Linked DNA regions of Homo sapiens: region 2 is linked to region 1. The links come from fine-mapping of genetic effects on gene expression. Tissue or cell type: B cells. Region 1 holds a variant in brackets; the other region holds the start of a gene. All regions are shown on one strand. Distances are between the middles of the regions.

Evidence for each region. PIP is the estimated chance that this variant, and not a neighbour inherited with it, causes the effect.
Region 2: it holds the start of CCDC85A, and the variant in region 1 is fine-mapped to the expression of CCDC85A in B cells (CEDAR, PIP 0.95).

What each region holds. Positions count from the first base shown.
Region 1 is chr2:56,362,781-56,370,888 of GRCh38, forward strand. All of the region lies in intron 3 of CCDC85A (coiled-coil domain containing 85A), which reads left to right. Among named protein-coding and RNA genes, the nearest start is that of CCDC85A, 180 kb to the left of the region's middle. The variant C/A (reference allele first, on the strand shown) is at 5,019.
Region 2 is chr2:56,180,115-56,188,222 of GRCh38, forward strand. It overlaps CCDC85A (coiled-coil domain containing 85A), which reads left to right and starts at 3,876. Exons shown (of 6, transcript NM_001080433.2): 1 at 3,876-4,786. The coding sequence starts at 4,511. LOC100129434 (a long non-coding RNA gene) reads right to left here and starts at 5,656. Exons shown (of 3, transcript NR_125368.1): 1 at 5,584-5,656. RefSeq lists a silencer at 3,546-3,875.

The DNA.
Region 1 (8,108 bases):
GCTAATTTTTTGTATTTTTTTTTAGTGGAGACTGGGTTTTGCCATGTTGGCCAGGCTGGTCTCAAACTCCTGACCTCAGGTGATCTGTCCCCTTGACCTCCCAAAGTGCTGGGATTACAGGTGTGAGCCATTGCTCCCGGCCCCATTTAGCTTTTTTAGTCTCCCAGAGGTATGGATGATTTTGGGACTTACTTCAATGGACTGACTTTGCAAAGATGTTTTATATTTTGTTTTAACTCTCTGTGCCCTAGACTTATCCTTTTGAATATGATTCAGTTAAATGAGTGTATATATAGTTTGAATAAAAAAATCTTGTTTTCCATCGTATTTTTTTTATAAGAAGGTAGGGCACAGATAAACATATTTTTAAAATCTCTTTGTTTTCTTCCTTTCCAGTAAGAGCTGTTTGTGACAATAAGAGCTCATGCTTCCATGATGCTTCCTTTTGTGCTTTGATGATGGTCTCGCTGATGGTGGATTTCATTTTTCCCTGCCAGAGATATTACTACTACCAATTATGCAAAGGCTACACTGCCTGGATTCTGGATTCATTTTGGCTACTCTCGTTTCTGTAAACATTTAAGCATAAGATCATTGCTAACGCTCCATGATAGATCTTTCAGCAGGTGGCATGGGTAGACCTACAGCCTAACTGGTAGCTGTGTTTGTTTGTATTATTGTATGTATCCTAGATAGGTAGCTGTAAGGATACATACAAGAAGCTGACTCTTCTTGCTTCTCTATTGACCTCTCTCTTGTCTTGACTTTCCCATTTTGCATGGGAGCTTCATATACTAGAAGATTCATCAAAGAACCTAAGACCCTTCTTTTTGCCAAAGCTAGGGCAGCAAACACCACCTCACAGTGGAATATTTCTTAGTCAATTCAGCAAATATTTATTTTAAGTCACTGTTTAGTTCCTGGGGCTCTAGTTCTGTGCATGTGTTCCCCTGGGCCCTGATAGCATGCTGAGGTGTTTAACACAATTATTAATCGGCTCTGGTCTGCAAGTCAGATGCAATGTTAATTAGCATTACTTCTTTGCCATTGCATCCATACTGGCAATTCAGCTCCATGCCCTTACGCTCCGTGTCCTACTTGTGCTTTCCTTTTCTCCCTTTTAAAAAATAAGCCCAAAACCTGAAAGTATTCAGATATGTTCTCAGCAACAATGCCATAACCTTTTACTATTTAATACCAGCCTGATTGAAAAGCAATTTAGAAGTATCAGTCTTTTTCTGTAGGAATTTCAGTGTTTCTCACTGGGAGTTCTATAGTTAATAAAAGTCAAGTATTAAGCATATAGACTCATTGCCTAGAAGTAGTTGCCTATGTTTCCTAGGTATTGTTTAACAGCCTCTTTTTCTTTTTTTCAACCAGGCCTTCAATGTTATTCTTTATCTGCCGTCACTCTGGCTACAGAGACACTGGGTGTTTTCTGTCTTAGCCCTTTCAAAAGATATTAATTCTTTTCTTCCTGGGGTTTGCCCTTTGTAATTTTTGTAAAAAGGCATCCTGCTAACCTTCTGTAATTATTACTTTTATTTCGTTTTATTTTTTCTGGGAACTATATTTCTGTATCTGTAAGTTTCACCTGGAGGAACAGGTATTTCAAAATTACTTTCTTTTCCTTCCAATAACATTTTATTGTTTGCAGAGATATTTTCATCAGTGATACAGTGAGCACTGCATGAAGTTAATATCATTTTAAATTTAAATGTTTTGCAAACTCTCTTATTTCACATGTCAGGAGAAAACCTTTTGGAGGGTATTCGTGACAAAGAATGCTTGAGGGCTTTGCATTATTAATCACTTCTTTGATCTTGATTTTAAAAATCTGATGAAAGAGTTAGATCTATTACTTCCCCCGGTATTTTCTATGCTGGTTAATAGCATGACCATTTAGCGAGTACCTAACCAGAAAGTTGATAGTCATCCTGGATAACTCCTTCAACCTCACTGCCTACATTCAAATAGACATTAAAGTTCATAGGGTCTTGCCCTCTAATCCATCAATATTGTCCTTTTAATTTCTTCTGCTATTTTCCAGTGTAGGCAATAAGTAATACTTTTTTTCCCTTCAAATTCTTTGTTGATCTCCTAATTGGAACTTCATCCCAGGTAGTCTGGCCTCACCCAAATCATTCTCCACACTATTACCAGATCAATCTGTCCACCACCAATCAGTTTCTGTTACATCTGTGGCTCCACATAGAATAAATTTCAAATCCTTCTTACGGCATGGGAGATTTCCCATGCAACTCCTGCATGTCATGTTGGACTCAGCTTTTGCTACTCTGGGCCTCATATCCTGTGCTCACATCCTTCTACTACAGGAAGATAGAACTAATTTTATTTTCCTGAACATGTCAGCAGCCTAAGATTTTTGGTTCTCTGAATTGAAGCTGCTTACTACGTCCACTGTGACTCCACAGACATCAATCTCAGCCATTATTTGGCATAATAAATGAGGGGTGTGTGAATTAATATTACTTTCATTTGTTTATTAGGATAGATACACATTTTATGTAATGGTTGCAGCCACAGTTATGTGCCTGGAGTGGAGAAGGTCAAATGAGCACAGAGCTGATGTTAATCTGGTGTGTAGCAGTTCATCTGTATCAGTTATTCATATTAACATGCTTCTAATCCAGTTCCTTCGAAGGCTGCTGAGCTATTCCAACCAATCTGACCCTCCCTAGGATCATCTGGATCTCTCTGTAACCCAGGAGCCAAAGAATGAGTGCATAGACTAGAAGGAGACTTCTGGGACCCAAAGAAGGAAAAATCACTCTGGGGTATAAATTACTGAAAACATTACCAGGCCCACAGTTAGTATCTTTAAAAAAACTTTTTTTACATTTATAGATAAAATTACATCTTTACTGTGTACAACATGATGTTTTAAAGTATTAGACATCGTGGAATGACTTAATACAGCTAATTAACATATACATCAGTTCGCATAGTTATCATTTTTGGGTGAGAACACTTTACATCCACTTTCTTAGTATTTTTCAAGAATGCAATAAATTATTGACTATAGTCACCATGCTGTACAGTAGATCACTTGAAATTATTCCTCCTGTCTAACTGAAATTTTGTATCCTTTGACAGACATTTCCTTCTCCTTCCCAATCCCCTCAACTCCTGGTAACCACCTTTCTCCTCTCTAAGTAGAAATAAACTTTTTTTTTAAGATTTCATATATGAGTACGATCATGCAGTATTTATCTTTCTGTGCCTGACTTATTTCATTTAGTGTAATGTCCTCCAGGTTCATCCACGTTGTGACAAGTGACAGGATTTCCTTCGTTTTTAAGGCTGAATAGTATTCTGTTGTATATATAGATAGCACATTTTCTTTATTCATCCATTCATGGACACTTAGGTTGTTTCCATATCTTGGCTATTATGACTAATGCTGCAGTTAACATGGGAGTGCAGATATCTCTTTGACATACTGATTTTGTTTAATTTTAATGTATACCCAGTAGTGGGATTGCTGAATCATATGTAGTCCTACTTGTAATTTTTTGAAGGAACTTCATACTGTTTTCCATAATAGCTATACTTATTTGCATTCCCACCAGCAGTGTGCAAGGGTTCCCATCTCTCCATATTCTTGCCAACACATCTTTTGTCTTTTTGATAATAGTCATTTTAAAAGGCATGAGGTGATCTCATTGTGGTTTTAATTTGTATTTTTCTCTTGATTAGAACTGTTCAGCATTTTTGCATAAATCCTTTGCTATTTGTATGTCTTCTTTTTAAGAAATGTCTATTCAGGTCCTTTGCTCATTTTTCAATTGGGTTGTTTCCTTGCTATTGAGATGTTTGAGTTATTTCTATATTTTGGATATTCACCCAGCATTTTAGGAACTCACATTAGCCAGTTTTATTAATCTTTTAATGGACAGCACTTAGGGTAGTGCTAACGTGGTAGGAGCTTAGTGATTGAGAGCTGTTATGTCAAAAACAGGCCCTCAAGAAGTCCTCTGCCTGCCGAGGAGTCTGTACATAGGCTACAATCCTTCACCACATGTGACGCAGAGAGTAGTCGCCTCCTGGTCCAGATTTCTCCTTCTTATTTCTTTCATCTTTTATGATTTAATCTCTCTTTTATCTTTTTATCTATTTAATCTTTTGCCATTATCTTATAATGCTTTCATTAGCACTGAGATGTGTTTCATGTGTCAGGGCCCCCACTTCTATTTGCTGGCAATTTTATTCTTTCCTAATGTGACTGCTTCAAGTTAAGTGCAGAATCTTTGCCCAGCAAATTGTTAAGTAAGCTTTATGATCTTCCATAATTTCCACAGAGCCCCTTCTGCCAATTGTATTCTCTATGTGGGACTGGTGTCACGATTTTCTAGGTACTGTAGCATACTATATGTCTCTATCTCAAGAACTCTTTCCTTTGGACCACTGCCCTGTGCCTGCCCACAGCGTATTCTCTTTCTGCTAGTGTTGTTACAGTAGGATGATATGGGTATTTTCAATTCTGTTTCTTTTATTGGAGTAATTTCTTATTTGGGGGTGGAAATGTGGCTGCCTTTATACTTAGACCATTTGAGGGCTGAAGCTTAAGGAGTTTCCTTCTAAATCCTTTCAAGCTCCAAATCCTGTGGGCAACATGTCCTCATATGCAAAATCTGCTATAGAGCTGTCACCAGAAATTTTGCTTTGTAGTTTCCCAACATAGTTCTCTTTCTCTAAATCAGGGTTTCTCAACTTCAGCTATAGCGACATTTTGGGCTAGATAATCCTTTCTTTGTGAGGGGTCTGTCCAGTGCATTTTAAGATATTTGGCAACATCCTTGGCCTCTACCCACTAAATGCCAGTAGAAACTGCATAGTTTTGACAAGTAAAAATGTCTGCAGGCATTTTTGCCAAATGTTTTCTCTTGGGGGCCAAATCACCCCCGCCCCCAATGAGAACTGACACTCTCAATAATAAACATTCGGACATAAATTGACAAGTTATAAAATATGTTGACAAGCAAAGCAAAAACATT[C/A]ATGATAAGGACAGCAAATGCTTATAGAGCACTTATGTGGGCCAGACACTGTTTTAAAAGCTCTTTCCATGTAAGTTTCCAAGCCCATAGAGTGACCGTACCATTTTACCATTATTATTTACACTGTATAGATGAGGAAACTAAGGCACAGAAAGGCCATATAGCTTGTCCAAAGTCATGCAGCTCATAAGTGTCAGATCAAGAATTTAAACTCCGGCACTGCGACCCTGGAGTCTGTGATTTGAACTCACTGTGTTTCTCTTTCAACAAAAATTCGTTGGAATAGGTATCTATATGGCATTGCATGCAATATCACGTCTGATAGTTACTAAATTAATGTTTGTTAAGTGAATAAATGAATGACTATACATCCAGGAAATTACTTATTATTTTACATCAGCATTGAATAGATTCTTTAGTTAATTTAAATGAAAAATGCACTTTTCTTTGGATATAACCGACTAAATATTAACATTAGAGTAAGGCAAGAGGGTCTTAGCATTTCTAAGCCTATGCACAAGAATCTCTTGGAGAGGGTTTGCCAAGGTGACCTTTAAAATCTCTTCTAATCAGAGCTTTTATTTATTTGCTAGGACAGTTTTACAATATGTCAGAATGAAGATTGGCCAAACTGAACAAAATATTATTTCCCTGATGAGATTAAGCAAAGTATCTGCCTTGCCCTGTAATAAGGGAAAACTGAATTTATCCTCCCCCTTAAACTAGGCATACACTCTGATGAGGTATTAAATATTATATGATAGTTTAACCAAGTTCAGGAATTATAAAAAATTAAGCATCTTTAAGTAACAGGAAACCACTTTAGCTGATCAATCTTCAGGCTTCCGTAGTTGGCCTTCTATAGTGAATGAGAGGGCTGGGGTCTCAAATTTGTTATAAGTGCATTACATCTGATTTATATCAAAGTGAGAAACTATTTTATGTAACACTACAGTATTACTCTATTGAATGTGAGTTTTAGTCAATTGGAAATATTTATATAGTACATATATATTTTTATATATACACATACATATGTACATATATGTATATGTATATATTCAATAAGAAACTCAGTATATTTGTTTTCCATTTTTCTGGCGTGCAAACAAAACTTTTTTTAGGAAGAATTTTCATTAAATTAAAAAATTTCCTTGACTTCATTACTAATTAAAACATTATAAAGGATTTTTCTAGGAGCTTTATTTTTTAGGTAATTTTCCCTACTGCAGAGATCACACATCAAATTCTGAGTGATCATCGTTTTGTGATTCATGTATTTTAGATAACATATAATATTGGACATTTCTTAGTGTTTTTCATTATTTCTATGAGGAACAGTAACACTTAATTCACGCAAATTTGAGAAAAGAAACACGACAGTGTAAAAAAGTTAAATGGTCTATTTTTTTGCAAAATTGGTTTTTATTCCCTTCATTTACATATATAGCTCATTGTGAGCAATAAGGGAAAGATAAACTATAATGTCTTAGAGAATGTTGTACGTCTTTAAATAAATAGATGAGAACTATTTATTATTAGAATGGTCGTAGTTTGAAGAGAAAATGTTGCAGATGTAGTTGTTCAAAACTTCATGTTGATTTCATGTTTAAGTACAGAGAATTTTATACCCTGTTGAAGTTTGAAGAACTAACCAGAATCTGACCCCGAAAGTCCTGAGGACTAAAGGCTATGACTCATGCTAAACCCATGCAAATGTCCATATGTGAATTCATTTGCCCATCTTTATGCCTTTCAAAGTCAGCAAGGTAAAAGTCTTCAAGTCAGGCTGACTTATTCTTCTTAGCTTAAAACATAGGTCACTTCATACTTTATTACTGAGGTTTCCAACAAATAGTTCTTGGGGACTTTTTCTGTTCATCATTCAAGAGGAACCTTTATGTGTGTCTGAAGTTCGCTGAGATGCCTGGTGAGTGAGAAGTACAGTTCGGATTTCCCATTTCCCCCTTTTTCTTCTTTTCAGTACTTGATTTTCACTCTTCTTTCCTCCTCACAAATTTTTGAAATACTTCGTTTTCTGAAAAACCCTACACTATTACCTCTATAGAAGTTTCCAGAGTTTTCAAGGAATAAAAACTATTGACTAGTACAGTTATAGCGAAACTTAAAGAGACTCAGTGATTCATACTTCTTCATATTCTTTTATGATTTCTGTGAGTACTTACCACAGAGTAAGTAATCTATAATTTACTTCTCACACAATGGGAGTGTTAGGGTCATTCAGGGATTCTTTTTCACAAACTTGGAATTTTAGAAAACTACAGAAAACAAAACTAAGTGAAACAGAATTCCTCAGAAAATAGGAAGTGACGATCTTAAGACTGTTTGGAATTGTTCTCCCAATTAGTGACCAGAATCTGAGTTCCACCATTTTGAGCCCCCAAGTTGCCAGAAACAAGTTTAACGACTGAATTACTGAAGGCTTCTTACGTTTTATGAAACTGTCTTCAGCAAACACTGTAATTGGTGATTGTAGGCCCTGCGAAACACTAAGCCTTCATTAGTGTATAAATACCATTTTGATGTAGTTTATTTGAAAGTTAATGATGATGGCTGGCCCAGAACACACTTTTCTATATACCTAGATTAAAAAAATATATATGCTGACATGGGGAGAAAATTAATTAATCCTGGTTCTAAAAGAGTGCCTTTTCCTTTAAAATGGTTATATCATCAGTTTATTCTTCCACAAAGATCTGGCCCCTGTTTATTGTTCCCCCTTATGAGATTAATAATACTATAAAATACATATTTAATATATTTTAAAGGAACATTTTATAATACTTAAAGTATAGCTATTGTTTTATGTAGTATCTACTTTCTGAAAGTTGGAAATTATTGTGAGTTCTCTACATAGTAGCTAAATGGCGCTCATGCCAGCTGGCTTCTAAGTTGGCATAGATCCTACCTTAGATTTCATGGGTATGATGATAAGCTTTGTTACAATGGAGAGGAATTGGGATTTAGCCTTGCTACACATTAAGAAAGAATGAAAGTAGAATGCCTATATGTTTTACTCAGTTGTTAAATCCAAAAAGGATAAGATCTGAGAGGTGCATGTTATGGAAA
Region 2 (8,108 bases), 180 kb before region 1:
TGTGGCTCAGACTGAAGGAACAGCAGCTACCCAAGGTTAGCTCTTCTCCTGGTGAAGCGTGGAAAGAACAGACGGGTGAGTGGGCAGACAGACGCCTTTTGAGACCTCTTCAGAGAAGGGGTACACTGTCAGGTGCACACACATGCGTTAGTACAGCAAGTCATATGCTTGCAATATGATTTTCAATACCAGTAGGGAGGGGAGAAAAACTGCCCCCTGTAGGGGAGGTGCTACAACATCACATGGTGGAAGGTGATGTTAATTTTTTTTTTTTTTTTTTTTTGAGACAGAGTCTCGCTATGCCGTCAGGCTGGAGTGCAGTGGTGCTATCTTGGCTCACTGCAAGCTCCGCCTCCTGGGTTCACGCCATTCTCCCACCTCAGCCTCCCGAGTAGCTGGGACTACAGGTACCCGACACCACGCCCGGCTAATATTTTGTATTTTTAGTAGAGACGGGGTTTCACCGTGTTATCCAGGGTGGTCTAGATCTCCTGATCTCGTGATCCACCCGCCTTGGCCTCCCAAAGAGCTGGGATTACAGGCGTGAGCCACCACACCTGGCCGATGTTAATTAATTTTGTAGGGAGGTTGTGAAAAATTATCAGCAATAATTCAATCTGTCTCAGGGGTAAAGTAGCTAGACTTGACTTTTTGAGATGATTCACTTGGGAAGTTGTGTGGAAAGCAGATTCGAGAGAGGTGATGCAGTAGTCAGAGGGACCAGTGAGAAGGGCCAGGTGAGACTTAGTGAGAACCTAGGCTGAGTAACAGTGAGCTGGGGGGAAATAGAGTTGACTGAAGAAAATTATATGATATAAAACCATCAGGACTAAAGACGTAGGGTCATTTATGGCTGGTTTTCAGAAATCTCCATTTAATATACCCAACTTAAAACACTGTCCTAGCTTCCCTTGCAGCTGGGAGGTGATTATATGGTAAGCTCTGCCTATTAGAACATAAACAAAATTCACTGGGTCAATTACCAGGATTTTTTTTTTTTTTTTTGAGACAGGGTCTCACTCTTTCGACCAGAGTGGAGTGCAGTGGCACGATCCTGGCTCACCACAACCTCCGCGTCCCAGGCTCAAGCGATTCTCCTGCCTCAGCCTCCCGATAGCTGGGATTATAGGCACGCACCACCATGCCCAGCTAATTTTTGTATTTTTAGTAAAGATGGGGTTTCACCATATTGGCCAGGCTGGTCTTGAATTCCTGACCTCAAATGATCCACCTGCATCGGACGCCCAAAGTGCTGGGATTACAGTTATGAGCCACCGCCCCCGGCCACCAGGAAAAGTTTTTAAAGGGGCATGTGCCCCTTTGCAGTTGTTATTACCTTCTTCCTGCCTTACACGTAGCTGGATGGCTAGAGTTCCACCAACCATGTTATGGACACGAGGCAATCATCCCAAAGGGGACTGAGCTGAGAGAAGGAGCCTAAGATTTTGACGACCTCATGAAGATACCATACCAGCCCTCAGCTGCCTCTCTTTAGAATACCAGGTAGGTGAGAAAAAATAAATGACTTTTTTAAAGTGACTGTTTTTTGAGTTTCTGTTTTTAGCAGTCAAATGAAGCTCCTGACACCATACATGACCTTAGCAACATGAAGCAACATTATTCATTCATGCAGATAATTATTATTCTGAATCAATGACCAAAATTAGAAACATGAAAACCTTAAGGTGATCTAGCTCAACTGTAATCCACTGCTAGTGTATATAATTTGTGGAGACTTTTTTTTTTTTTTTGGCTTTCCTTCTTCCTTGTCTTCCCAACACAAGTCTAATTTTTCCTCTCAGCCATCTCTCTGATTTCTCATATCTATTTGGTGTTAACTGATCAGAGGGAGTTAGCAGAGAAGGGGGCTGGCTGTTTCATTTTAGAATACGACTCTTGAAGAACCCGTGATGGAGGAATAAACAGAAGTCCTGGTTCCTATTTCTAGACAAGAGGCTGCCCAATGTAATATGTAATATCAGTAATAGTAAGGTTGCATTTCTGTAGGGTGGCTCGATCAAGCGCTTCTTGTATACCATATCATTAGCTGCCCGAGGGCCAGTAAGGTCGGATGGTTTGTTCAAGGACAAGAACTAACAAGTAACAGAGATAGGACTTATCTTTTTCTGACCTTCACTTTCCCTTTCTGTGACAAAACTGGTCTTAGGAACTGTGTTGAGCAGAGCCTTCTGTGGGCGTGAGAGCGGCTTGGAGGTGTCAAAGAAAAATTGCATCCGATATAGTTAAACAGACAAGGGGGAATTATTCAAGGCTATTGCAATAGGGAAGAGAGAGAGGGAGGGAGAGGGGAACTAGTAGAAGACTAGTGGAGGAGATTAGGATGGGAAGTTGGTCAGTGTAATGAGGCCATTTGTGTTTCCTAATTGGAACTTATTAAAGTTAGGCTCCTCCTCTCCACAAACACTAGGAGATAGGGACCCTTTTTTCCTTGATGATTACATTTCAAAGGGATGCCTCACAGATCCCTGAGAAAGATCCCCAGGCTGTAAAACCCAGCAAGAGGCGGAGAGATTTACATGTCAAAGGGTCAGAGGAAACATTCACCAATGGAAGTTGGCTAAAGTAAATGCTCTGAGAAAAGGAAGGTCTGGGGCCTACAGTTAGGAAGAAACCTGTCTAAAGTTTAGTTAAGCTGAGGGGAATGTTAAGGCCATTTGGTCACCGTAAGCAGTACCACATTTCCTTGCCTCTCCCGGGAGCCAGGTCTCAGTGTCCCCAATAGGGGACACGCACTGACCGGCGGGTGAAGGGACTGATTTTGATTATCATCCTACCAGATAGAGATTATTCCCTCTGCACCCGGGTTAACTGAAACCCGGTGGGGGTAGATCCTTGCCATTTTCCGGCCCTGTACCCCACTGGAAATAACATGCGGTGGTCAAGGGCATCCACCTCTTTAGGCAAAAGCATGTTTTCAGCCCAGAGACGATTCCACCCAACTTTACAAGAGGATAGCCCAAAGATAGAAGCCAGGGACTCAGACTTCCTCCTTCCAGAAATAACCATCATAAAAAAGCCGACCCAGTAAACGCCTGGCAGCCTGCGGCATAGAAGAAAATGGAAATCTCCTTGGCTGGCATTTCAGCTTGCCTGAGGGGGCTTGCTTTGCTCCGAGGGGAGGTGACTGTGCTGACCTTAAAATCCAGGTTTCAGGAAGCAGGAGATGAAGGTATTTTATTTTCGCCTAAAGGCTTTGATATTTTTCAAATAAAAATTTAAAAGATCCAGTACCTTCTCCCGAAGCTTCTTCATAGAGTAGTGGATTTTTAGAAAACACAAAGGCCTAGGGGTGGGGCGAGAGTGGGGGGTGGGGATGGGTAGCCCCATAAGAGCAGTGCCCTGACGCCTCTTTTCGCCCTTTTCAGACCATTTGGATTTTCTTAAGCTGCCCCTTTCCCCAACCCCCGTTTTTGCCATTTGCCTCTCCTCCCATTCTCCAAAGTGCAAATAACTGGTTATCCCTCAGGTCCTGCTACCCCATCTTTCCTGATCCCCGATCCCTCCAAATACGAAGCACCTCGCATTTGGGTCAGCAGCTGTTTCCCCTGCCTGGTGACAAGGCCGGTGTGCAGAGGGCAGAGGAGGGAGCTTCTTCCGCCACACGGTGGCGCGCGCGAGCCTCCCAAAGACCGGGCGGCCACAGCTCCTCACCTTCTCCCCATTCCAGCCCCACCCGCCCGGGCGCAGAAAGAGCCGCGCCCCCAGCCCTCCCGGGCAGGACAGCCGGGAGCGCACCTCGAGGGCCCGGGCAGCGGTCGAGTGGCAGCTGCGTCCAGCCCATGCGGGAGCTGCTGCGGGTTACGGGTGGCCCCAGCTCCAGGCTCCTCCTCCAGCCGGTCCCCCACCCTCCACCCCTTCTCGACTCCGCTCTGCAAATCGAAGGCTTTCCGGAGCAGCCTAGGAGCGGCCGCGGGCGCAGCGAAGGCGGCAGGAGGAGCGCAGCAGCCTTCGGGCAGCCGCGGCGGCGTCGCTAGAGCAGCCGGGGAGGCGCCGCGGTGCCCGGCGCGCCCTCCAAGCTAGGAGAGGGGAGAAGCCGGGGGCTGCAGCTGGGCAAGGGGGAGGAAAGTGCGTGTGCGTGCACGCCTGTGTGCAGGGCAGAGAGTGCGGGGGGCGACAGTCTCGGCTTAGGGCGGAGGAGAGGGCAGGGGAACGGCGGTGCAGCTCCCCCGCTGTCCCCGAGGATTTCCCGCGGCAGCCCCGGGCTCCCCAGTGCCCCTCACCATGGACTTGCGCGGAGTTGGGACGGGCCTCGGCAGCAGCAAGCGGCTGGCTGCCGGGCCCTGGGGGAGCGCGGGCGCGCGCGCGGGGATGGCGAGGTAGGATGGCCACCCAGCGCGACCCCCGCCGCCCCAACCCAGCGGCCCCTGGGCGGTGCCGCTGACTCGCCGGAGCGCACAGGGGTGTGGGCGGAGGCGGCCTCGCCGCGCCCGCGCCTTCGGGAGTCGCCTCGCCTCTTCCACCCACTTGCACCTGCCACCCCGCGGATACCATGTCGAAGGCGGCCGGAGGCGCGGCGGCGGCTGCGGCGGCGGCGGAAAGTTGTTCCCCAGCCCCGGCCGGCTCGTCCGCGGCCCCGCCCGCGCCGGTGGAGGACCTGTCCAAAGTGTCGGACGAGGAGCTGCTGCAGTGGAGCAAGGAGGAGCTGATCCGCAGCCTGCGGCGCGCCGAGGCGGAGAAGGTGAGCGCGATGCTGGACCACAGCAACCTCATCCGCGAGGTGAACCGCCGCCTGCAGCTGCACCTCGGCGAGATCCGCGGCCTCAAGGTGAGCGCGGGCCAGGTGGGGAGGCGCGGCGCGGCTGGGAGCGGGGTGCCCCGAGGAGGAGGCGGGGCCAGGCAAACTTTCCCTCCCTCCCTCAACAGGTGACCCTCCCCTTCTCCCGGTCGGCACCCCCTACCCCCAGTCCCCAGCCCCTGTGTAACTTTTCCAAACTTCGGAGGCGTCTGCTCCCCTCCTCTCCCCAACACGGGGCGCTCCACTGTCTGGCTGTTCGGGGAGGCGCTGAGGACGCTGGAAAGCAGGGAGGGAGGTGAAGGGCACGCGAACCTTTCATTTCTTAGGGAGGCTGGAAAATCTGTGCCTGGGGAGCCGGGTTTCAGTCAGTTAGGCGGAAAGGCCAGTGAGGGGGTGAATCCAGGGGATCTTCGCCTTGGAGGGTCGGGAATGCGGCTGCTCTGGGCCAGCAGCTCTTGGGCGGGCAGAGGGCGAGGAAAGGGCGCCACTGCCAGGGAGAGCGGCTGGCGGGGCGCCCGGGAGAAGCAGCGGGCGCCACCCTCAGAGCAGTCTTGTGTCACCGGGTACATAGGAGTTCAAGCTCTGCCTTCACGTCTTCTCCCAATTCCTGTGCTTTCCCTCTCCCGGAGTTTGGAAGGCATCCCCTGGAGTTGCCTTACTCCCCTTCCCACTTAACCCCAGGTTGACTGGGGGAAAGAGGAGGAGCAAAGAGACTCAGTATGGAAGGAGCAGCATTTTGACAGAGTACCCCAAGTGTTGGTCAGTGATGGTTTCTTTCTGAGCCAGCCCCCCTGCCACCCTCTTCTAGGAAAAGAAGGGAAACGTACCCCAAGCCCACTAACTTTCTTTTCTCCTTGGAGAGCGCCGGGTCTGCGAGGAGTGTGCCTGCCCAGCTGCAGTACACTAGTGGCCGGGAACCGCCCTGCTGGCGAGCACCACAAACTTCCTCTCCTTCCAGCTAGCGCTGGTGCCTCCTGGTATTCCTTCCTCTCATTGTTCTGCTTTGTTTGTAGGAAGCCAGACACAAACGAAATCACTGCAGGGACTTCAGGGAGCAAATTCCCGAAGGCACAAGCTGTTCTTTTCCCCTTTCCACTCCTATCCCCACATATCAGACAGTAGATGCTGTTCCGGAATTGCCTCAGTGCTCCAGCTCTGGGATTCTGGGGCAAGAAAGAGTGGGAAGAGTGGAATGCTCAAGGCTCACCTATGTGCTGGGCCCAGTTCAGGTGGAGATGGCCGTCTCCCGAGGCCGAAAGTCATTGTCATATAGTCCCTAGAGTGGGTGCAGGTAGGAAGATTCCTCCAGTCAGAAAAATGCCAAGGCTTACTCTCTCCTGTGGTTGAATTCATTACTAACAGAGTGTTTATTAAGTGCCAGTCTCTTTGGGGAATAGAGGCAGGCTAGTGTAGTAGGAAGATGATCTCAGAGGTGGGTTTGAATTCTAGAAACCTCATTTGCCAGGAGGGTGAGCTTGGGTAATTACTTTCTCAGATCCTCCTTTTATTCACCAATACAATGCAATGATAATAACTTTCTGAGGGTGTTATGGCAATAAGTTATGATTATGTAGGGGAAGGTTTAATACTTGACTATAAAATGGTAGTTACTGTCATCAGGAAAGGACTTACAAATCTATGGCTGTGTGTCCCCAAGATTTTGGTTTCTTAGGCAGAGCTGGACAAGGGGGCATTAGTTTGTCATCCTCTAATTTGAGTTTCTTCCATGGTCTGAACAATAGTGTGATTTAGAAGAGTTGGAAGAGTTATTATTAAATGTTTTAATAGTATGGAGCATCAAAATAATAGCTCAGAAACACTTGAAAGTTCCTTTAGGTTATGTGGATTGACTGTGTGTGATGTCTGTGTGTGGGTAGGGGAGGGGAATGGTAGAGTGGGTTGGTAGAGTGCCTGGGCTTCATTCCAGTAGCTTCATGTAGAGAAGTAGCTATTAGGTCAGCTAAAGGCCCGTACACCCAAGTAAGAAAGTCTCCTTGTGATCTAGATTCATGACCTGGCATTAAAAGACTTGCCAGTCTACTTCCTTATCAAGTTCAGAAATGATGGGGGCAGGTTGCTTTCTGATGCAGCTTCTACTCTTCTCATGTCATCCCTGGGCTGCTGCAAGGAGCGGACTCCCAGGCTTCTGGCCCACCCTGGGTGTGCTGTGGTTTTACTCTTTGGAGAGGCCAGCCTTCTCCCTTCTCTTTTTTATTTTGGCTCAGAGCTTCCTTGGACACCATAGTAATCCATAAATGTGGTTGATTGAATAAATGATGGGTACATATATTTATTTTGGCTTAACTGGAAGAAAAGAAGTATTTTTTTTTGTTAAGGGCGTGGGGGAGCGTCTGAGGGCTTGGCATTCTCAGTTGAGAACTATAAATGTAGGGGAATTAAGACCATAATACATTTTCTTTTTTATGCCTCTTTCTATGAGCTGACTTTGAAATTGCATCTAAATATTTGTAAGGCTACCAGGTGTTATTGTAGCTGTGGACACAGGAGATGGCAGCATCAGTTCTTTACTTTTCAGGGGCCTGTGGCCGGGTCCTAGCACTGATTGACTTGTTTGTGTTTAGATATTTGGGAGGCAGGGCAGTGCAGGGGCCCTGAGAAGTGGAAAGATAAAGAATTTGGATTCTGATAATTTGGGCAGCTTTGGCCAATTGTTAAACTCTCTGTCTCTCGGTTTTCTCATCTGCTCATGGGGATTTTAATTCCACATGAGGTTTTATGAGGATGAAATATACCATAGATGAAGAAACCCCAGTGAAGTTAGATAGTTTTCTCAAGGTCACACAGACATAAAGTGTTCAAAATCGGCCTGCTTTCCTTTTCTTTTGGCTAGTTGACATTCTTTGCTTAGAATGTGTGGTCCTGGAAGGGGTGGATGAGGGAGATTCTAGTTAGGGTTATGTTGTAAGGAACTGGATTCCTGAGAACCATGTCTTTGGACTGCTGAGCATATACCAACACTTCAGGCTGCTCTGACCCAGTATCCCAGTTGGGGGCTGATTCGGGATGAATCTCTGTAGATTTGTTTTCTTCATTGCATTAATTTCCCTCCTTGGTTCCTAACCCAACCACCGACCCGCCCACCACCCTGCTCTGCAGTGAAGCAAAATAACAAATTAAAACAATTATTTAACTGTAGATACAGTACTTGATAGTCTTCAGGCATAAGATTGAAATTTTGGTTGGTGTGCTACGAAGTGGACTTAACCTTTTAAAAGTCCACTTAGACACTTGGATAATTTCTGGTGGCCGGTGGCAATGTTAAAAGGACACCTAGTGTTTTGCAAAAGAAAGCCCAAGTCTTAGTGAGGCAGATTTGAAGAAGCTGGATCAC